3 separate regions of the Homo sapiens genome follow, and all the other regions are linked to region 3. The links come from fine-mapping of genetic effects on gene expression. A gene starts in region 3. Each other region holds a variant in brackets. All regions are shown on one strand. Distances are between the middles of the regions. Region 1 has its middle 35 kb from the start of CRADD. Region 2 overlaps NUDT4 (nudix hydrolase 4). Region 3 holds the start of MRPL42 (mitochondrial ribosomal protein L42).

The links. PIP is the estimated chance that this variant, and not a neighbour inherited with it, causes the effect.
Region 1: its variant is the best candidate, but not a certain one, in a credible set for the expression of MRPL42 in damaged cartilage (Steinberg 2020, PIP 0.86).
Region 2: its variant is the best candidate, but not a certain one, in a credible set for the expression of MRPL42 in subcutaneous fat (GTEx, PIP 0.56).

Annotation. Positions count from the first base shown.
Region 1 is chr12:93,638,530-93,646,433 of GRCh38, forward strand. It overlaps the pseudogene LOC642969. Among named protein-coding and RNA genes, the nearest start is that of CRADD, 35 kb to the right of the region's middle. The variant G/GT (reference allele first, on the strand shown) is at 3,779.
Region 2 is chr12:93,387,124-93,395,027 of GRCh38, forward strand. NUDT4 (nudix hydrolase 4) reads left to right here. Exons shown (of 5, transcript NM_019094.6): 2 at 7,486-7,596. Among named protein-coding and RNA genes, the nearest start is that of NUDT4, 13 kb to the left of the region's middle. The variant A/G (reference allele first, on the strand shown) is at 4,559.
Region 3 is chr12:93,463,422-93,471,325 of GRCh38, forward strand. It overlaps MRPL42 (mitochondrial ribosomal protein L42), which reads left to right and starts at 4,093. Exons shown (of 6, transcript NM_014050.4): 1 at 4,093-4,133; 2 at 5,771-5,934. The coding sequence starts at 5,865. RefSeq lists enhancers at 3,925-3,984, 4,045-4,314.

The DNA of each region.
Region 1 (7,904 bases), 180 kb after region 3:
CCTTTTAATATATTTGGGTGTTTTCTTAGTTGTCTTCTTTTTTTCTTTCTTTGTGAATGATTCTTAAAGAGTTCTGGGCATTTGCATGTGTACCAGACTTTTAAATTTCATGGACCAGTGAAAAAGAAAAAAAAAAAGCTGAGGACTGATGGAGTGTTGCCAACATTTTATTTCACCATGAATATAAGAGAGAGGAAAAAAAAAGAACACCATCTTCTATCGTCTTTTCACAAAAGGAGATTTAATATCAAAACTGTGAAAGAAGAAATCTTGGAATAAAGGACAGTCTTTTAAGTGAAAGGTATAAGGGAAACTTGCTACATTGTCCTTTTTTGTTGGGGACCAGTGAAAACCTCCACAAAGATATTTGGGAACCGCCACCTCACGAGCTGTATCCACACCCTCTTAACAGTTTGCTTCCAGCACTTTGTTGTTCACTTTATTCTGTCAAGGTTATTCCTACCTGGCACTTTCCCTTCTCGCTCCAGTAACATTTAAAGACCTTTCCCCCGGCAAAGGCTTTGCTGCCACACTGGAGAGCTTTGATCATCAATTCTGTTAGGCTGGTTGTCAAAGGAGCTGGTGGTGGAAAAAGCCCAGCAGAGGTGGCTGCTGTTAGCTCTGAGGAAACCGAGCAGCTGTTTGCTGTCGTTCCAGGGTTATCTCATAATTTATTGTGCGCAAAGGTGGCTTTACTGTTCTCCTTCATCCTTGTCCTCATCACCCAGGCTCTGACAACCCAGTGCCTTTCATCTGGGTGCCATGACTCAAGGTCTTCACCATTTGTCTTGCTTTTCTTCAGGGCTTTCTGTAAGTTATTCGTGTCAGACACTGGAGTGTCTTCCAATGTCAAACACAAAATGCAGCCCTCCATAGAGAGAGGAGTCCTACTCTTTTGGCTTTGATTGGATTTCTTTCTGAGTTCCAACCAAAACCTCTGCAAAATTGTGAAGAAGATGAAGTGTGTGGTGTGCCTGGACTTTCCTCTTTGCACCCTTCATTTCATTTCTATGTACCCTTTCTCCTGAGAGCTGGTGGCTTCACGCTGTCATTCTCTCTTCCTCCAGACTGTAAGTAATCTAATAAAATCACTCACACTAAGAGGTTAGGAGTTTAATTCTGTCTCTCCCAGCGGCTCTTGCACACAATGAAGTGGAAAGAGAGCCCAGCATTAGAGTTTGAAGGATTTAATTCCAGCCATGGCTCTACTTGCTGTTGCAGGACTTACACAATTCACATCATTTCTCTGGGACTCTGTTTCTCCTTCAGCAAAATGGGAATGATAGTAAGATCTACCTCACAGGTTTGATGTAAAAGTTAAATGAGATTGTCATAATGTTTTATCATCTGAAAGTGTTTTTTTTTTTTTTTTTTTGCACATCACTCCTTTATTATACTGATATGGAAAAAGGATTTAGTACAGTTATGCTCAGATGAACACTGGACCCATGTGGCAGGGTCAAGCAACTAGAACATGATTCAGAAATCAGTGAAAGATACACTTGGACAGGACCAAGAGGCATTTCACTGCCATGAAACAAGGCAGGAAGGGATTCTAATACACACACCAGGAAGCACTCCTGCCCCTCAGAGGTCAAGGAGCTGATCCTATATTGGTATGAGGAATGGCTTATTTTCTGATGACCACATGTGGGACTATTTCAACCGCCACAAGAAACCCCAGAAGGGTTATTGTTTTGTATTATTTATATATACTATACTTTTTTAATAAAAGTAAATTAACACATAACGAAATTCAGGATTGATCCCAACCTAGAGCCAGATCCTCTGGGGTCAGGGAGGAAACAGTTGTCACATCACCACGCAGGTTACATTCGTCTTCCACTGGAATGACTAGAGCCCCCAGGCAGTAGGCAGTGGCCTGACTGCAGAAGAGCAGAGGACAGACTCCGCTCATGGGGACAGACAGGCTCTGTTGCTTCTCCTCACTGGTCATGGCTTAGCATGGTTCCTCCCCAAAGTCCTTAGTAAACAAAGCACTCGCAAAAACCCAAGTCACTACTTTTAAACTCTGTTGGATAAGGGGAGCTTTTCCATAGCTTAGACTGAGAACCTGTGCTCTAGAACTGCTATTCTGACTAGATTGTATGAAGGGAGTGGGTGCAGGCGACAAAATGGCTAAAATGAAAATGGGAGCCACTGGTCCCCATCTGCAGCTACAACTCAAGATGTCTACAGATGTGGTCAGTGTGACATGTGCAGGTGGGAGGGGCAGAGGGACAAGACGGGCAGGGAGGGTGCTCCTGGGGACAGTATCCTCCCCGCCGGCCTTCACTTCTTGGCCTTGCCCTGGGCAGCCACAGCTTCCATGGCTTTGCGCACCGTCTCTTCATCCCCCAGAAACTGCATGGGCTTGATAGGCTTCAAGTTCTTGTCCAATTCATAGACAATGGGAATACCAGTCGGCAGGTTCAGCTCCATGATAGCCTCTTCAGAGAGACCCTCCAGATGCTTGACAATGCCCCGGAGGCTGTTGCCATGGGCTGCAATCAGTACACGTTTCCCCTCCTTGATCTGGGGAACTATTTCTTCATTCCAGAAGGGCAGAGCTCTGGCAATAGTATCCTTCAGACTCTCACAGGAGGGTAGCTGATCTTCTGTGAGGTCTGCATACCTACGATCCTTACTGATGTTGCTGTAGAAAGGATGGTCGGGCTCCATCGGAGGTGGTGGGACATCATAGGAGCGCCTCCAGATCTTCACCTGGGCCTCACCATGCTTTGCAGCAGTTTCTGCTTTATTGAGACCGGTTAGACCCCCATAGTGCCGCTCATTGAGGCGCCAAGTCCTCACCACTGGCAGCCACATCTGATCAATGGCATCTAGCACTGTCCAGAGGGTCCGGATCGCTCTCTTCTGCACTGAGGTGAAGCAGATGTCAAACTCATAGCCAGCATCTCGTAGCGCCTGCCCGCCGCGCTTCGCCTCCTCGTGGCCCGCCGGGCTCAGGTCGGCGTCGTACCAGCCGCTGAAGCGGTTCTCCAGGTTCCATGCGCTCTCGCCGTGCCGGATCAGCACCAGTTTGTAGGCGGCCATGGCGGCGGGCTGGGGATGCGGCACCGACTGTGAAAGTGTTTTGATTATTTGTTAGTCCATAAATACTAGAAACTCACTTGTGCTAGCTTGAGTAAGGATATTGGATTTGACCAATTAAGTGTCATACAGCACAAGATCAAGAAGGAACCCAAGACATTATCTTTCCCGTATGTAGCAGATCCTTCCAGGGTTCACAAATATCTGGTTCTTTTTACCTTTGTAGGCACAAAGTGAAGTTAAATTTTCTAGTCTTCTTTGCATCTAGATAGAACTGTTACCAAACCAAACTGGGTTCGTTTGCCTGCATGCAATGGAAAGCGAAACACTGAAGCACTGCATTTTTGCAGCAAAAAGGCTTATTGCCAGTGAACTGGCAAGGAGACAGGAGGAAATGCTCAAATCTGACTCCCCAAGCTGAGGGCTGGGTTGGGTTTCATAAGCATAGTGTAGTGAGGTGTGATCTGATTGGATCTTACAATGCGGTGGTGCCAGGAGGCATGATCTGTTGGGATTCTGCCATGGAGTTACACCAGGGCTCAATCTGATTAGATTCTGGATCCTACCATGAAGGAATCCAAGACGTTCCAAGATGTCTGCTTCTTGATTCAGTCCTTGCCCCTCAGTGCAAGCACTTTGGTTCCACTTGTGGTTGCACGCTTGGTTCATCTGGGCATGCTCAGATTACATGACCTTCAACCTTGGGGTGGGGGGGTGGTCCATG[G/GT]GACTAAAAAATAACTCACAACTTTGTTACATAGGAGTTGAACCAGATTGATCCAGGGCAGTTACAGAACTATGTGATTGAGTTCTGGCTAATGGATAGTGGAAGGAAGTGAGGTATGCCTATTCCAGCATACATCACAAAATGTCTCTTGTGATCTTTCACGTTCTCTCTCTTCCTCCCCTCTCCTGGCTGGGATGATATCATGGGGCTCTTGAAGCCATAAGATGATGGAGACATGAGATAGAAGGAGCCTGGGTCCCTGAGTCACCACTTGGAAAGAGCTCACAGGAAAGCTATCTAACCAGCATCATCAGATTCGAATTTTTGCATGAGGAAGAAATAAACTTGTATTGTCTTAAGCTACTGAGATTTGGGGCTGTTTCTTATAGTGGGTAGTCTACCTTAATACATACACTGTATCTCAGGTCTGCTTCTCCCTGCCCCCTGCATCTTGCTGCACACCACTTTCTCTGCCTTCTTATTCATCATGGTGGAAAAAAGGCCTCCAGGAACAACAACCAAGTTGACTTCTCTTCTATTCAGGGAAACAGGCTGATTGCAACTAAAAACACTTCATTTATTTCAAATTCCTTTGAGAAGACTGGGTTAGGTCCAGCTGGTATTGGATGTTGACTGAACCAATCAACTTGTAGTGTCTATGAGGATAGGGGAAGGACAATACCCCAGAAAAATGGTGGTTGGCAGCCATCCTAAAATGTAGTTGACGCTGTGCTCCATGCTTGCAGTTAACATTTTTAAAAAGAAACATGGGGAGAGTGAAGACATACATTTCTTTTTATATACCCCAAAAGAATGAATCTCTATGGATGTCTTTTCAGTGTTCAGTTAGTGATTTACATTTTGGGGCTGGGTAGCTTTTCCCAATTGCTCTCAAATTATATAGCTTGAATGCAACAATATTGCCCATCCAGTGTTGGAAAGCACAGAGTTAGGGGCTGCAGGCTCTGGCCTGTGGGGCACACTGGACACAAGAACCATGCTAAAATATGCAGGTAAGTAAGGGGTAAGAATCATTATCCATGCATTGGTACTTAAAGTGTGGTGCAGCAAAGTCCATAAAGTGACCTTGACGTGGTGCTGCAAGATGTGGTGGACAAAAATTAGAGTTCGATTCTCTCCAAAGCTGATTCTCCATGTATGCTTTCTCCTCTGCCTGAAACACCCTTTTCCCTTCACCAGCAGATAATCCTGGCTGACTTCAGGACTCAGCTCCAGCACACCTTCTAGAAATGGCCCACTCCCACTTAGGGTTAGGCCACCTCTCCTTTGTGCTCTGTTATAATACCCAAATGTGATTCAGTTTTTAAAAATAACATTTTTTCCCTTCAGTTGCAAAGGGAAAAAATGTTAATGCTACAAACTGAAAAGTCCAAATGAGCTCAAAAAAGAAAATAAGAGTCTCTCATTATTCCACTCTCTAGGGGAGTATACGTACACACACACACACACACACACACGTAACATGCTTCTAAAAATTTTTGCTTTTGTACTTTTATCTCTTAACAGTATGTCATGAAGATTTTCCCACTCATTTACAATATGATTTATGAATATGTAGTAGCTTATGGAATCTCATAATTTCTTAACCAAATTCATATTGTTGGACATTTATGACTGTTTCTAATTTTTCATTATAGTAAATGAACTCCATTCAAGTCTGTCCTATTCAAGAGAACAGCCTGATTGCAACTAGATAGACTTGTATGTAAAGTTTTGCATATTTTCTTAGTTATTTCTTCAAGATAAAAACCTAGGATTAGATTGCTGGATCAAGAGGTATATAAACAAGGCAGGAAAGCAGAGAGTATTCATTACTGTCTTGGGTCCCTTTCTAAGAAAGAAGAGAATCTTTCTAGGTACCCCCTCTCCCTAGCAGATTTCCCTTTGTGTCTCATGGACAGAATTCCATCACATGCTGTATCAGTCTGTTCTCACGCTGCTAATAAAAACATACCCAAAACTGGATAATTTGTAAAGGAAAAAGGTTTAATTGACTCACAGTTCCACATGGCTGGGGAGGCCTCACGATCATGGCAGAAGGCAAATGAGGAGCAAAGTCAAGTCTTACATGGCGGCAGGCAAGAGGGCTTGTGCAGGGGAACTCCCATTTATAAAACCGTCAGAGCTCATGAGACTTATTCACTACCATGAGAACAGTATGAGGGAAACCACCCCCATGGTTCAGTTGTCTCCACCTGGCCCTGCACTTGACACATGGGGATTATTATAATTCAAGGTGAGATTTGGGTGGAGACACAGCCAAACCATATTACATGCATATGCAGAAACTAGGTACCAGCAAGGGTAGTGAGACTATGATCAGTTTAGACCATCCAGATATTTCCTATAAGATTCAATACCTCAGAATTTTTTTTTCTGTTAATTAGGAAGATTTGGGAGTAGCTGTGGTACAGGAACCAAGTCCTTTTCATACTTGCTACAGAATAATAAAATGTTTAAAAATCTGTTCTAAGTTAATAGGTAACAGTTCCTTCTTGTCATCTTTGTTTATATTTTATTGATTACTGGTAGATGTGAACAGTGTTTCAAATATGTATTGGTCATTGTATTTCTTCTGTGATTTACTGAGTCATATTATACCTATGCATCCTTTAAAAAGTGACTGTTTTATTTTTGAATTCTACGGAGCAGCAAATTATGTCAGCCATATAGTTAGCACAAAGTAAAAGCTCATCAGGTGAATAAACATGTATGTGCTTGCACACAGTTTGCTGTGTGTTTTGTAGTTATAAATAATAGTAGATGGGAGAGTGGTTCCTAGTGCAATTGGCCTACAGAGACTAAAAAGTTGTGGAGAACAGACTTAAGGTAGTCCTGAAACAGAATAAGACATCAGGCAGTCACATCTAAAATTCAGCTTTCTGGGCCAGGCACAGTGGCTCACACCTGTAATTCCAACACCTTTGGAGAAGACCAAGTTGGGTGGATCACTTGAGTCCAGTAATTCGAGACCAGCCTGGGCAACACGGCAAGACCCTGTCCCTACAAAAAATACAAAAATTAGCCAGGCATGGTGGTGCACATCTGTAGTCCCAGCTACTTGGGAGGCTGAGGCGGTGGGATCCCCTGAGTCCAGGGAAGTTGAGGTTGCAATGAGCCGTGATCATGCCACTGCACTCCAGACTAGACGACAGAGTGAGACCCTGTCTCAAAAGTAAAATAAAACAAAACCCGACTTTCTTTTCTGTTAGTCTAATGTATTTTTTCACTGGCTAGCTTTTGAATCAATTTTACAATGATCACGACAATGTCATCTTTATTTAAGCTGAAAAATCTTTGTTGGGTTCGGAGAAAAAAAAATCTATCACTCAAAGGAAAAACAAGAACAATAACAAAAACTAGACATTAATTATGGAATTGTTGCCTGGCTGTAATCCTTTTGTTAGTGAGTCCTTGCATAATTATCACCCAGTTTAATGAGTGTGAATTTGCAGGTAGGAGAAATTATCATGATATCTTAAGGCTAAAATTACAGTGCTCTAGAGAGCAATGGCGAGAAACATCAGTCTATTGCCAGAAACCTAATATGGTGAGTCATCAGTTTGAATCCTGAGGTTTATGGAGATGGAATAAGCAGGAGGGACTCCCAGAAACTTCTTTTGACAATAGGAGGCTTGGCAGTTGGTCTTACAAACCCAGGAGCTTGAAGTTCTAAATGAGGAAAGTACACAATTTTAAAATGTCATGATAAAAAATGTAAAAGAAATCTTTTTTGTTTAGAGATTAAAAAAACAAGATCTACCTTCTATGGAGCCTTAAGCAAGTGAATAAGGTCTTCTTTAAAATGTAGCTAATGACATACATCAGCACAGCGAGAAATCAGCATTGCATCCAGGTAATGAATAATTATGTACCCTACGGTCTATCAATAACCAATTATCTGGTTATGCTAACATACCCAACCGTCATGTGCAAGTAGTTATTTAGATTTTGTAATAATTGATTATTGAATTGACTTTTACAATAATTTATCTAATTCTAACTGCTTATGCTTATGTTTTATTTTACCTTAAAGAATGAATGCATCAAATCACTTTCTTTTTTAAAAAAATAATTAAAAATTGAAATGACTTTTGCATGAAGG
Region 2 (7,904 bases), 76 kb before region 3:
GTTTCACCATGTTGGCCAGGCTGGTCTTGAACTCCTGACCTCAAGTGATCCTCCTGCCTCGGCCTCCCAAAGTGCTGGGATTACAGGTATGAGCCACTGCACCCGGCTAGACTGTTTTATTTGCATGCTCTTTACAAAACGTGTTTTTTCAAGCTGAATTGCTTTAGTAGTTCCATAAAAATGTAGTCCAGAAAAATCTACATTGATGATTTTCATTTTCAACAGATTCCAAGTGAATTCAACAGAAAAGCTGTAATTCTTGAGTTCCTGATAGTTCTGGAGTGACAGTACTCCACTACGGTGCAACTCCTCACCACCATCCCCAGTTTCTCTTTTATAATCTCAGGCTTTTTAACTTGGTGAAATGTTTTTCTGGAAAGAGAAATGGTCATATAGCACTGAACAATAGAGCAGGTGTGGCGGTTCTTAGGAAACACTGAGTTATGTTTTCATCTTAATCTCAACCCCTTGCCTAAAAAGTTGTTAGTGTCCTCTGTTGTCTGCCTAATTAAAATATAAACATGCTCCAATGTGATACCAACTTTTTTTCATCTGTACTGGTCTAGATCTAGTGCTGGGGACCGCTTCCAAGTGCATGACAGACCCCAGGTGATCACAGGATGGCCTAGCTATCACACTAGTTGGCCTTAAGTTAAAAGACTTTTCACTGTTATTGGGGTTGGGGGCAGGCAGGGGACTGTTTTAATTGTCCTTCTCTCTACTAATGCTGTTCATATTTTTCCACCCTGGCAGACATACGCCATCATCCAGTCTATTCTCTTATCTGGAGTGTATCCCTCAGTTCTTGCTCACTCTTAGTCACTGCCTTCTCCCCACCACCACCCCCCCAGATGTGGCCTTGCCCTCATTTGAACACTCAAATGAACTATTCAAGATGAGTAGGCAAGTACTTAATGAAACAGACAGACTTTCAAATCTGTCACCATGACATCTGTGTGAGACCTCTTTTCATAAGCTAGTTGTTTAGATGGCCAGTCATTTCTATATCACAGATATTAAGTACCCATTTAAAGCGATCATTTTATGGAAAGATAATTTGAAGTTATTGGTCTGACCAAATTTATTCTTCCTGAGATGTCAAGGGACTCTTGGATGATAAGTTACTGGATTAGGCTAAATCGTTTGTCCACAATTTATAATGATATAGATTTATATAGATGTATGTGTTCTTGCAGTTTTTAGACACAAAATATTGAGCATTCTATGTGACTGTATTCCAACCCCACCTCCAAGAATATAAGCTCTTTGAGGGAAAGATGTATATTCAGTATCTTTTCATCACATACAATTCTTGTTGAGTATCACACAATTAGTAGATAAGGAACAAAATCAGCAACTTCTTTCTCCACAGTGCTTCTCTTTAAGGTGGAGAACTTGTGCTGAATTGTCACTTTTTGACAGGAGTCAGTCTGTTCTCTGTCCTTCTAGAGGCTGAAGATTGTAAAGACAAAAGTGAATGGATTTAGTTTGGATACCATGTGCATGATGCTTCTTTCCTGCTAGCCCATTTTCATGATTCTGATTTTCTTTCGAAAAGCATTTTAAAGTGGTAAGGTTTTGCATGAAAATTTAAGTGGATAAATAACTAACAGTTACATATTTTACCTGTTCTGAAAAGGATATACCATTAATTGGCTGTAGATGTCCAATATGTGACCCTTGAGATGAGCACTTGAAATATGACTGGACTAAGGAATTGAATTTTAAATTTTATTTAATCTTAAATTTAGCCATATGATGCTAGTGGTGACTGTGTTAGCTGTAGACCCTCAAAAGCATGAAAGGTTCAAAAGTAGCAGAGTTTAGGACAGACTGGAATTAATTGGCAGATCAAGGGCCCAGAGGAGCCCAATTCTATCTGCAGGTTTGTCAATTTAGATGAGTAGACAAGTGCTTAATGAAACATGCTGGATTTTAAAACTACCATCACCAAAAGTTGGATATTAGCACATCTGCCTTAAGCTAGTAGTTTAGATGTGAATCATTTCTGGACCATAGATAATTACTCATTTAAATTTATCGGCCTTTTTTTTGAAAGATACATTTGGCTGGGTGTGGTGGCTCATGCCTGTAATCCCAGCAGTTTGAGAGGCTGAGGCGGGCAGATCACCTGAGGTCTGGAGTTCAAGACCAGCCTGACCAGCATGGAGAAACCCCGTCTCTACTAAAAATACAAAATTAGCTGGGCGTGGTGGCGCATGTCTGTAATCCCAGCTACTTGGGAGGCTGAGGCAGGAGAATCGCTTGAACCGGGGAGGCGGAGGTTGCAGTGAGCCGAGATTCTTATATCATAAATTACTGGATTGTGCTAAATCACTTATCAAATTTATATACTATTTTCATGAGGCTTTCTAAAAAGTAATTTATGAAAGAGAGATGTTGAGACACAAGGGTTCCATATTACTCATTTTTGGAAGAAAAGTTTAGTCATGCTGATGTCTTGTAGATGCAGGATTGGTTTTAAATCTGAAGCATAGACCGGGCGCGGTGGCTGACACCTGTAACCCCAGCACTTTGGGAGGCCGAGGCAGGTGGATCACGAGGTCAGGAGTTCAAGACCAGCCTGGCCAAGATGGTGAAACCCCATCTCTACTAAAAGTACCAAAATGAGCTGGGCATGGTGGTGGGAGCCTGTAATCCCAGCTACTCGGGAGGCTGAGGGAGGGAATTGCTTGAACCAAGGAGGCGGAGGTTGCAGTGAGCCGAGATTGCACCACTAGACTCAAGTCTGAATGACAGAGCGAGACTCTGTCTCAAAAAAAAAAAAATCTGAAGCATAAAATGTTTCTTCAGAAAAGCAGACACATCTTATACTAATGGTTTTTCAACATTATTAATCTCCTGTAATTTAGCTCTGTCTTGGAGAACTGGAAACATCATAGTCAATGACCTAGATACATGAGACTTTGCATTTCATTTATTCAGGACTGCAACATTTTGAATATGGATGATTTTGAACTCCCTATTTACTATTTACTAAGTGATGATGTACTTTTCAGGCGGCTAGCCACCTGCGTTATGTCCCATTATTAACGTAATCCAGGAAGTTGCTTAGAGAGCATAGAATTGTGTAACAAGAATTTCATCTAGGCAATAGAAACCAGTTTATTCCTAACCCAAACCTAGTGACCAGAAAAAGAGGCCTGTAACTCTGCAGTCCGGACCAGTAGTTGCTGTTTACTTTTCCAGTGATGCGAGACAAACTCTTAACATTTTTATTTAACTTAAAAACTAACATTCACTTGCCAGTCTTGATAGAGGGCCAGTGCCTTTGGTTGCCATAGATCCTCTGTAAGCCTCCAATTTTGAATAAAATACAAAGGTTTTGAAATCTGATTTGTAGTTTCTCTGTTGAAAGTAGAATTTGAACTTAGAGACCCTTGCATGCACTTTTGGATTTTTAATTTTCTTTTTCTAATTTTCTATAAAGTCTCATCTGGGTATAATTTGATAATGTAATAACCCCCCCTCCCTTTTTTTGAGACAGTCTCATTCTGTCGCCCAGGCTGGAGTGCAGTGGCATGATCACAGCTCACTGTAACCTCGACCTCCTGGGCTCAGGTGATCCCTTCCACCACAGCCTCCTGAGTAGCTGGTATTATGGGCACATGTCACCATGCATGGCTGATTTCTGTATTTTTTTGTAGAGGGAGTTTTGCTGTGTTGCCCAGGCTGTTCTCACACCTGCCCGCCTTGGCCTCCCAAAGTGCTGGGATGGGATTACAGGCGTGAGCCACCATGCCTGGCCTGGAATGCTGCTTTTCTAAGAGGAGGTTCTATGCCTAAATAGATACTCTCTTTTAACTCAGCATTTTGGGGGCTTGAGAGAAGGGTGGGAGTTGCTGAATTGTCAGCTTGAAACTTTCCAGTTTGGAAAAGTTCCTGGTAACTTAGTCAAATGAGAGAGGACTCCTGTGCTGGCTGAGAACTCTTAAAGGCCAGCAGCTCCTGGCAGCAGGGAGGGAGCAGGGCAGATAGAAGTGCTGGCATGCATTTAAAAGAAAAAAAAATCAGTCATGGCTCTTGCCTGTAATCCCAGTTGGGAGGCCAAGGTGAGAAGATCACTTGAGCCCATGGTTTTGAGACCTGTCTAGGCAACATGGCAAGACCCCACCTCTACAAAATAATACGAAAATCAGACTGGGCATGGTGGCTTACTCCTGTAATCCCAGCACTTTGGGAGGCCAAGGCAGGCAGATCACTTGAAGTCAGGAGTTTGAGATCAGTCTGGCCAACGTGGCGAAACCCCATCTCTACTCAAAATACAAAAATTAGCTGGTCTTGGTGGGAGGTGCCTGTAATCCCAGCTACTTTGGAGGCTGAGGTGGGAGAATCACTTGAACCCGGGAGGCAGAGGTTGCTGTGAGCCAAGACCATGCCACTGCCCTCCAGCCTGGATGATAGGACGAGACTCCATTTCAAAAAAAAAAAAAAGTACAAAAATTAGCCAGGCCTGGTGGTGGGTGCCTGTACTCCCAACTGCTCGGGAAGCTGGAGTGAGAGGATCACTTGAGCCCGGGAAGTGAAGGCTGCAGTC[A/G]GCAGAGATTGTGTCACTGCACTCCAACGTGGATGTCCAAGTGAGACCCTGTCTTAGTTATCATCATCATCTCTATGCACACTGGGAATTAAACTTCGTGATAAACCCTATGTGTTTTCGAGGGAGAACTGTTTAAATTTACTTGAAGGTAGTATACTAAGATAATTTTGTGGACACTTTTGTTCAAATTGACTTATTTATTTTTATTTTTTATTTTTTTGAGACAGAGTCTCACTCCATTGCCCAGGCTGAAGTGCAGTGGTGCAGTCTCGGCTCACTGCAACCTTCGCTTCCTGAATTCAAGCAATTCTTGTGCCTCAGCCTCCTGAGTAGCTGGGACTACAGGAATGTGCTACCACACCCAGCTAATTTTTGTATTTTTAGTAGAGATAGGGTTTCACCATGTTGGCCAGGTTGGTCTTGAACCCCTGACCTCAGATGTCCACCCACTTCAGCCTCCCAAAGTGCTGGGATTATAGGCATGAGCCACCACGCTCACCTTGAGTTGATTTTAACTTAAGTGAAGTTCAACCTAAGCTAGCCCACAAATATTCCTTTGTTTCCCCCCCCCCCTTTTTTTTTTCCTTTTTTTGAGACAGAATCTAGCTCTGTTGCCCAGGCTGGAGTGTAGTGGCATGATCTCGGCTCACTGCAACCTCCGCCTCCCAGGTTCAAGTGATTCTCCTGCCACAGCCTCCTAAGTAGCTGGGATTACAGGTGCCTTCCACCACGCCCGGCTAATTTTTTGTATTTTTAGTAGAGATGGGGTTTCACCATGTTGGCCAGGCTGGTCTTGAACTCCTGACCTCAGGTGATCTGCCCACCTCAGCCTCCCAAAGTGCTAGGATTACAGGCATGAGCCACTGCGCCCGGCCAGATATTCATTTAAAAGATGGGTATGTAATACCTGTTACCTGTTAAATAAAATCTAGGATACTTGTCTAAGGTAATAGGGTATTTTTGTAACAATTTGTAGATTTCAGTCTTTTTTTTTTTTTTTTTTCCCCCGAGATGGAGTCTTGCTCTGTTGCCCAGGCTGGAGTGCAGTGGTGCAATCTCTGCTCACTGCTCACTGCAACCTCCGCCTCCCAGGTTCAAGTGATTCTCATGCCTCAGTCTCCCGATTAGCTGGGATTACAGGCATGCACCACCACACCTGGCTAATTTTTGTATTTTTAGTAAAGACGGGGTTTCACCATGTTTTGTCCAGGCTGGTGTGGAACTCCTGACCTCAGGTGATCTGCCCACCTCAGCCTCCCAAAGTGCTAGGATTACAGGCATGAGCCACTGCGCCCGGCCAGATATTCATTTAAAAGATGGGTATGTAATACCTGTTACCTGTTAAATAAAATCTAGGATACTTGTCTAAGGTAATAGGGTATTTTTGTAACAATTTGTAGATTTCAGTCTTTTTTTTTTTTTTTTTTCCCCGAGATGGAGTCTTGCTCTGTTGCCCAGGCTGGAGTGCAGTGGTGCAATCTCTGCTCACTGCTCACTGCAACCTCCGCCTCCCAGGTTCAAGTGATTCTCATGCCTCAGTCTCCCGATTAGCTGGGATTACAGGCATGCACCACCACACCTGGCTAATTTTTGTATTTTTAGTAAAGACGGGGTTTCACCATGTTTTGTCCAGGCTGGTGTGGAACTCCTGACCTCAGGTGATCGCCCACCTCGGCCTCCTAAAGTGCTGGGATTATAGATGTGAGCCACCACGCCCGGCCACATTTCAATCTTAATGCTATTCTTGGTAAGGGGTCCATAGACTTCCAAATTAAGGGCCAGACAAACATTTTAAGTTTTGAGGGCCACACAGTCTCTGTCACAACTGCTTTGACTCTGCTGTTGCATCATTAAAACAACCAGACAATATGTAAAAATGAGTAAGTGACTCGATTCTAATAATTCCATCTGTGGACACTGAAATTTGAATTTCACATAATTTTAAAATGTAAAAATACTTCTGGCTCACAGACTGTACAGGTGGTGAGCTGCAGACTGCCAGTCCTGTTCTAGATCATAAATGATAGCTGCCTGTTAGAAGAATGAAGTGACTTTTGCCTATGTATGCAGGTTTAAAATGTGAAGGATGCTTCTTGCCACCTAATCATAACAGTAACAAGCACTCTGTATCAAGAATCGTCTTTATGTGCATTTCCCTATTTCTTTCTCACACATCTGTTATCTTCTTAGTATTCTTATTTTTTAGGTGAGGAAACAAGGTAACCTACCTATGGTCATTTCCTTAAATTTGGAATATTCCATAACTAAATAAACTTATGTGACCATAGACCTCAGTGCATACAACTCTGGCTAATAAGCCAAGTTTCTGTTTTTTGTTTTTTTGAGATGGAGTCTCTGTCACCCATGCTGGAGTATGGTGGCACGATCTCAGTTCATTGCAACCTCCACCTCCTGGGTTCAAGCGATTCTCCTGCTTCAGCCTCCCAAGTAGCTGGGACTATAGGCGCCCGCCACCATGCCTGGCTAATTTTTTTAGTAGAGACGGGGTTTGGGGTTTCACCATGTTAGCCAGGATGATCTCGATCTCCTGACCTCTTGATCCGCCCGCCTCGGCCTCCCAGAGTGCTGGGATTACAGGCGTGAGCCACCGCGCCCAGCCAAGTTTCTGTTTTTATCCTTTGTTATTATCCAATAATTTGAGAGTTTTACCACCAGTAGTTTATTTCATTAGATAAGGTGATTTGGTAGTGTGACCATGTTAATGTTAATTCTGATTTCAGAAAGATGGTGTTTAACAAAGGTTGTCAATTGCATTTTTGTGGTGTAATGCGTACCCCCTAATTTTAATTAAATTTTAAAATATTTTAATCTAGAATAGAGTTATAACCTTGCAGAGGTTTGAGAATGTTGTTTATATACGAAGTGCTTCTCAGGCTGGAAGTATACAGTTATGGTTCACCTTACAGGTGCTGCTGGTGAGTAGCAGCCGGTACCCAGACCAGTGGATTGTCCCAGGAGGAGGAATGGAACCCGAGGAGGAACCTGGCGGTGCTGCCGTGAGGGAAGTTTATGAGGAGGTGAGATGTTCTTTCACACAAATTCTGTTTCGGAGTTTTAAAAACAAGGCCCTTTGCTACATAACACTAAGACAGCGAGACGGGTCCAGGAGTGCTTTTTGCCTGATGCAACTTTATTTTTAATTTTAATTTTTTTTTTTATTTTTTGAGATGGAGTCTCGCTCTGTTGCCAGGCCTGGAGTACAGTGGAGCGATCTTGGCTCACTGCCACCTCCGCCTCCCAGGTTCAAGTGATTCTCCAGCTTCAGCCTCCCGAGTAGCTGGGATTACAGGCACGTGCCACCGCGTCTGGCTAATTTTTGTATTTT
Region 3 (7,904 bases):
AATTTTTGTATTTTTAGTAGAGACGGGGTTTCACCATGTTGGTCAGGCTGGTCTGGAACTCCTGACCTTGTGATCCGCCTGCCTTGGCCTCCCAAAGTGTTGAGATTATAGGTGTGAGCCACTGTGCCCAGCCAGAAAGATCATTCCTAATAGTTTGGTCATAAGATTGCTCTGGAGTCTTTGCTCTCTGATTGATACAAAGAATGACTTTTTTTTCTGGGAAGTTACAGAAGAAAAGGCAATCCTCTTTTAAATGGAAGCCATTTGATGCCAATTCCAAAGTTCTAGAATTTTGTCTGTTTGTCATTTTACTAGCATGAATTTAAAGCATTTGTAGCTGAGCACAGTGGCTCATGCCTATAATCCCAGCACTTTGGGAGGGTGAAGTGTGCGGATCACTTGAGGTGGGCGGATCACTTGAGGTCAGGAGATCGAGACCAGTCTGGCCAACATGGTGAAACTCCGTCTCTACTAAAAATACAAAAATTAGCTGCGCATTGTGGTGGGCACCTGTAATCCCAGCTACTCAGGAGGCTGAGGCAGGAGAATCACTCGTACCCAGGAGGTGGAGGTTGCAGTGAGCCGAGATCACATCACTGTACTCCAGCCTGGGTGACAGAGCAAGACTCCGTCTTAAAAAAATAAATAAATAAAATAAAATAAAGCACTTTTATGTAGGCCAATATAAGTTATTTGCTGGTATTTCAAGTTTGTATTTTTGGAAATTATACTTTTTAAGTTGCTAGCACTGACCTCTTAAGTTAGGAACACTTTGTGACATGGCCTCTCTTAACTACTCTTACATCACAGTATTTGTTTTCCTTCTACCTTTCTCACTGCCACTCCTGGGAGGCCCTTGCTAAAGGTTATCCTCCTCCATCTGATTTCTAAGCCTTCGAATTCCCTGGGGCCAGCTTCTAGGCCCTTTATCTTTTTTTTTCTATACCTAGTCCAACCTCTACTCTCCAAACACACCTCTTCAAGTACCTGCCTTTTGTTTTTTGTTTTTTTGGAGATGGGGCTCTCACTCTGTTACTCAGGCTGGAGTGCAGTGGCATGACCATAGCTCACTGCAGCCTCAACCTCCAGGGCTCAAACGATCCTCCTACCTCAGCCTCCTTAGTAGCTGGGATCACAGGTGTGCATCATCAACCTTACTAATTCTGTTTATTTTTTGTAGAGACAAGGCCTCACTCACTATATTGCCCAGGCTGCTGACTTGTTTTGTATCTCCACTGGAGTGTCTCAGAGCCATCTCAAACTCAACAACTCCCAAACGGAAGTATGCATTTCCACCATCATCAGACTCCCCAAACCTGTTCCTCTTTCAGTCTTCCTTGTCTTATGAAGGGCACCACTGTCAACTAGTCATCAAAGCATCACCTGAAGTATCTTCCTCCCTCTCAATCAATCCATCAGCAAGTTAAGTCATCACTTCCAATTTCAAAATACATCTGGACTCTTCCTGTCTCTCCATCTCCACTGCCACCACCCTCCATCACATGATTTCTTGACTGCAGTACTGCAGTAGCTTCCTTGCTAGACTTGCCTGCGGTCTTGCCACTCTCCAAACCACTCCTCCCAGGGCAGCCAGAGTAACCTTTTAAAAATGGAAATCAAATTATGTCACTTCTTTCATGTAAAAATCTCAAGAGACAGGGCTCACTCTGTCACCCAGGCTGGAGTGCACGGCACGATCATAGCTTACTACCGCCTTGACCTCCTGGGCTCAAGCAATCCTCCCACTTCAGCCTCCCATTCCCAGGGTAACTAGGACTACAGGCACACAGCACCACCTACTCTATTTAATCTCTACATATGTCCTGTGTCCTAACTCCATGTTAACCCCTCCAAGGCTTATGAAGCCCAACATGACCTGGCTCCAAATCTCATCTCCTGCCGCTCTCATCCACACTATCCACCCTACTCCAGTATATGGTAAGCTATTTCCACCACATTAAACCTTTGTGTAAGTTGTTCCCTCACTCAGCCTAAACCTGTCTCTCCCCTCTCTTCCCCCAAAAATGTTGGTTTCTTTTCTGGTCTCAGCTTTGTGAGACCTTCCTTGGTCCCACTAAGTGAGTCTCCCTGTTGGGGACTGGTCCCACTCTGCTCACAGCCATCAAGACTTGACCTCTGGAATTATCTTTGATCCATTCTTCTTACACTTTACGCAGGGAATGTTCAACCAGTCCAGTTGACTGCTCATTCAAATCTGTTTCTCCTCTCTGTCCCTTCCTATTGCACAGTCCAGAAAGACATCATGGGTGGCTTTGGAGGATGGACACGACTGGAAAGGACACAGATGGGCCCTCTGTGGGCTTCTATAAGAGCAAAGATTAGCCTCCTGATATTCCGTGGGAAATGAGGAGACACACTACACAGCCCGTATTTAGTTTTCTTTACTATGTGATGTGTGTTCACTTACTTTCAATACTAGTCACTTCAGGAATATGGTTCTTAACTTGTTGAGGGGTTTATCAATTCCCTGGAATACATAATAAAAGCTATAGATTATTTCTTAGAAAAATATACAAAAGCAAAATTTTGCAAATCATGGGAGAAGGGAATTTCCAGGCGACCGCTTCTGCTTTACCAGCCAATCATCTACTGTCTTGGATACTTGCAGCGTTATCTAGTCTTTTCATTCATTCAGCAAACACTTCCTGGAGACCTATAATGAGACCAAGCACAGTCTGAGATGCTGGGTTTGCATACAGTGAAGAACAAGATAGACATATGTCTCTGTCTTCAAGGAGCTTACATTATCCAGCATAAGAGACATTAAACGAGGTTGGGTGTGGTGGCTCACGCCTGTAATCCAGCCCTTTGAGAGGCCGAGGTGGGCATATCACCTGAGGTAAGGAGTTCGAGATCAGCCGGGCAAACATGGCGAAACCCCATCTCTACTAAAAATACAGAAATTAGCTGGGCGTGGTGGTGGCCACCTGTAATCCCAGCTAATTAGGAAGCTGAGGCAGGAGAATCGCTTGAAGCTGAGAGGCGGAGGTTGCAGTGAGCTGAGATCATGCCACTGCACTCCGGCCTGGGCGATAGAGCAAGACTCCGTCTCAAAAAAAAAAAAAAAAAGAAAGAGACATTCAACGAGCAAACAAATAATCAATATAAAGTCAGGTAATGGTAAATATTCTGAAGGAAAATAAAGCGGGGCATGGAATAAGGGTGGGTGAGGCTATTTTAATGGTGTGGTCCTTTCTAAGATGATATTTGAGAAAGACCTGTAAGGTCATGAGAAGAGGTCAGAGAAGCACATTGCTGGCAATGGGAACAGAGAGTGCAAAGGCCCAGAGGTCTTTCCTTCCTCCTAAGATGGAAAGCGAGGTCCAAGATTCTGCATATTTACTTCCTCCCATAATAGGTAGCCAGCACAGTTCTGAGGGCACAGTGCCAGGTTTTCAGAGTGGAGGTTCTCTTCAGGTTCTGATTTCAAACGTCCAAATCCTAGCCTCCACATTTCAGGGCTTCTCTGGAATGTCTCTTCCCCTGGGAAACTTTAACTCATCTACTAAAGAGCAATCTACGATTTCTCTGAATATTAACATAATTTTTTTAAAAAGTACTTATAGGTTTGCATGGTGGCTCATGCCTGTAATTCCAGCACTTTGGGACGCCGAGGCAGGAGGATTGCTTGAGACAAGCCTGGGCAACATACCGAGACCTCGTCTCTACAAAAATATTAAAAAATTAGCTGGGTGTGGTGGTGTGCGCCTGTAGTACCAGCTACTCAGGAGGCTGAGGTGGGAGGCTCTCTTGGGCCCAGGAGGTAGAGGCTGCAGTGAGCCGTGAGGGAGCCATTGCACTCCAGTCTGGGTGACAGAATGAGACTGCCTCACAAAAAAAAAAAAAAAAAAAAGCTTGTTACTTTCTAAGGGTATGTGTTTGGGGCAGTGATTTTGTTTTTCTGGGCACCTTAGTAACACTGCGGCCACGCTTCCCCAACTAAAGGTAAAAGTCCATAGCAACAATCCTCCCTTTCTCTCTGCACCCGGGCCGCTTTCCCGCGGAGACTACATTTCCCAGAATGCCCCGCGGGCTGGGACGGCGCGCGCAGCGCTGTTTCGTGGGACCAGGATTGAAACAAGATGGCGGGTTCGTGGTGAGAAGCCGTCAAGGTAACCGCTTCCCTCTACTCCTCCTGTCGAGGACTTCCTCGAAACTGGGCAGTCCCACAGTGTTGGTCGGCAGTTGTAGAGGTCTCCCGCCTGTCGTTCCCGGCAGGGCGAGGTTGCCTGCATCCCCAGCCTTTGTCCTTCCTGCAGAAGAGCCGGCATGTGGCTGCGCGTTTCTTATAGCGCCCCCTTTGTTCCCTGGCGGACGCCCGTGGGGAGGTGATGCAGCTTGTGGCTCTAGGGACTCCTTTAGGTCGAAGAGTTCTGGTGCTCTTGGTAGCCTGTTCCTCAAACCTCTGACCCTCAGAGGCTCTGTAGCTTTTGTTTTGGGGTTGAATTCCGGGCTGAGGGACTTGATCTCTGAAATGATCTTCCTGGGGTGAATAATCTGACTCCCAGCAGGGCGTGCTTTTCTCTGGGCTTCGGACAGAGGGGACCTAATTTCCCCCAAGATGTTTTATTCGTGGTCAGAAGTCATGGGTTTACGTCCCACGCATGTATTAAGCAGCGATATACTGAGCAAGTAATCGATTGACCTCTCTGAGCCTTTGTTCTTAATCTGAAATGGAGATGCTGCTTCACACACTTGTGAAAGTCAGAGCACATATTGTATATGAAAGTGGGTTGTAAACTAAAAAGCACACCTATGAGCTCAGGGTTAACGGTGTTAATGTACTGGCAGTGCAAGGTATCAGTGTGAGTGGTTTAGACTAGCAAATAAGAGGGCCTGTGTCCTAATTCTCTTTTATCACTATTGGGGGGAAGGGCACGGATACTCATTGAAGACTATTAAAAACAAGATTTAACAATGGTTATTTGTCATTTATTCACAACAGGCCATGAAGATTGTGGTTTTCCCCATTTTGTCATTGGAGAAACTGAGGATCGTTTAGTTAATGACTTGTTTAAAGTTTCCCAATTTGGCAGTGACTGACTCTAAAGTCCTTGGAAGCAAGACGTTTAAATTTTGTACTTTAGTTTCTTCATGAATCAGAATAAAGATACCTCACATGATTAATACGAGAGCAAAATGAAATGGTGGTGAAAGTACGTTGGAAAGTTAAAGACTTTGTACACATATAAGATGGTGAAATTTTATCTGGGACTTGAGGGCATTTATGAGTTCCTCCAATTGAGTAATAGGCTAAGGATAGGCCTTGTTTGATATTTCTTTATTATTATTATTATTATTAATGGCTCAGGGCAGACAACTATTTCATTTAATCAGAAACAGGATAGTACTGTAAATGATGTAGTATCTTGTGTATGGAACCTTGGAGGGTGTACACAGCCACACTAGCATTAAAAGAATGAATACTCTGTGTACCATTTGTGAGTGACTGTTTCAAGAGTAATTACACATTTACTGAGTATTCATTAAGTGGAAGGAGCTGCACTGGGTCCTGCAGAGAAGTTTGTATCTAAGATAAATAGTAATGGACATAGTTCCAGTGGTTCTGATCTTATATTCTGTCCATGTCGCTCTTCGTCCTGTTGTTCAATCATGTGGAATTGCCAAGTTGTTTAAAAGCATTGCTTCAGTTGACTTCTAGGCAGTGATTCTTACCTTGTTCTTGTGGTGTTTAATATAACTTAAATTTACCATAGGTAGCACTGATTTTTCTTTATCTCTTCAGCAGGAGTAGAAATTGGTATGCTTAGAAGCAGATTCTAAAAGCAGTTTCTCTTCAGAACATCTTTTTTCATACCACTTGATAAGCATCTTGAAACACCATGGCTGTAGCTGCAGTAAAATGGGTGATGTCAAAGAGAACTATCTTGAAACATTTATTTCCAGTCCAAAGTAAGTGAAATTTTTTTTAATGTTTAAAAACTTTTAAACTTTTAAGAATTAAGAAAATTTAAAGCATTTAGTTATTGTATATGCCTGTAATTTGCAGGAGTGTTTGCAGCAATGGAAAGTGGGAGAAAACCTAAATGTCAGTCAGAAGGGGAATGGATAGGTCAGATGTGGTGTCTCATGCCTGTAATCCCAGCACTTTGGGAGGCTGAGGTGGGAGGATTGCTTGAGGCCAGGGGTTTGAGACCAGCCTGGGCAACATAGCAAGACCCCCACCTCTAAAAAAAAATGTGGGTTGGGGAGGGGAATGGATAAATTATGGTACATCTGAACTGTGACTGTCATGTAGCTGTTACTGACATGGAAAGATCTCCAAATAGAAACAAAAAAAGCATGTCAGAACCACATCTATATATATCTATCATATGATCTTATTTGTATGTTTAAAAGATGATCCATCATATGCATGTGTGCATATGCATAAATGCAGAGGTAAAAGGTCTGGACCAAACAGTGGTTATCTGTGTAGCCCACTCTTGGGATTTGGCTGAGGGCAGGAGTAAGGGACTGGTCAAGGGTAACTTTCTCTTGTTCGATTACATGTATTACTTTTTTAGTATTTCTCTCTTTTTTTTTTTTTTAACGGAGTCTGGCTCTGTCGCCCAGGCTGGAGTGCAGTGGCGTGATTACTTTTTTAGTATTTCTTAAAATGTGCGAATAAAGGGTAAATTCACAGTCCCATCTTCCAAAGATAATCATTGTTAATATTTTGGTGGATTGTCATTGTGTTTTTTCTATGTACCTAGCCATTTTTAAAAAAATGAAATGTAATTTCTGCCTTTCTTTTCTAAAGAACTGTATATAGTTAGTATTTTCTCGAAAGCTTGTTAATACATGTTTGACAGTCAAAGCATGGACCCAAATAAGTAAATAGAGTATTAAAGTCTTTTTTCTCAGCCAACTGTGCTTTCTTTTTCCTTTTCCTGTCTGTAAACAGAGTTTATAGCTCTTATAAACAGCTCTTATAGGAAGCTTTCCATTTCTAAAGTAGACATGTATAGAAGGCAACAGTAGGTTTGCCTTTTTATATTAAACTATGTGAGCCAACTTTTTATTTTTATTTTTTATTTTAGATTCGGGCGTACATGTGCAGGTTTGTTACGTGGATGTATTACATATACTGAGGTTTGGGCTTCAACTGAACCCGTCACCCAAATAGTGAACATAGTACCCAATAGGTAGTTTTTCAACTCTTCCCTCCATCCCTCCATTCTGTTTTGAGTCCCCAGTGTTTATTGTTCCCATCTTTGTGTCCATATGTACCCAATGTTTACCTCCTACTTGTAAGTTAGAACATGTAGTATTTGGCTGTTTTTGCATTAATTCACTTAGGATAATGGCCTCCAGCTGCATCTGTGTTGCTGTAAAGGACATGATTTTATTTGTTTTAATGTCTGTGTAATAATCCATGGTATGCATATACACCACATATTCTTCCAGTCCACCATTGATGGGCTTGTTTCCATGTCTTCGCTATTGTGAATAGTGCTCTGATAAACATGCAAGTGCAGCTGACTTTTTAAATACAACTCTGCTTGACCTTGACCTTTGTCTCTTCTTTCTTATTTCCTATTTACCACCATTTGTAATTGAAAGTTTGCTTATTGAATTAGGGAGAAAAGAGCTATTTGAAGAATGGAGTATAAGTAAAGTAATAAATAGGCAATTTGTTATGCTTGAGACGAGGAAAATATTTTACTCAGTAAACACCTTTGTTGAATAGAATGCTCAAAAGTTTGCCAGATCCTACTCTATTTTATTTTATTTTATTTTTTGAGACTGGATCTTGCTCCCAGGCTGGAGTGCAGAGGCATGATCTTGGCACACTGCAACTTCTGCCTCCCAGGTTCAAGTGATTCTCCTGCCTCAGCCTCCCGAGTAGCTGGGATTATAGGCACCTACCACCAGGCCTG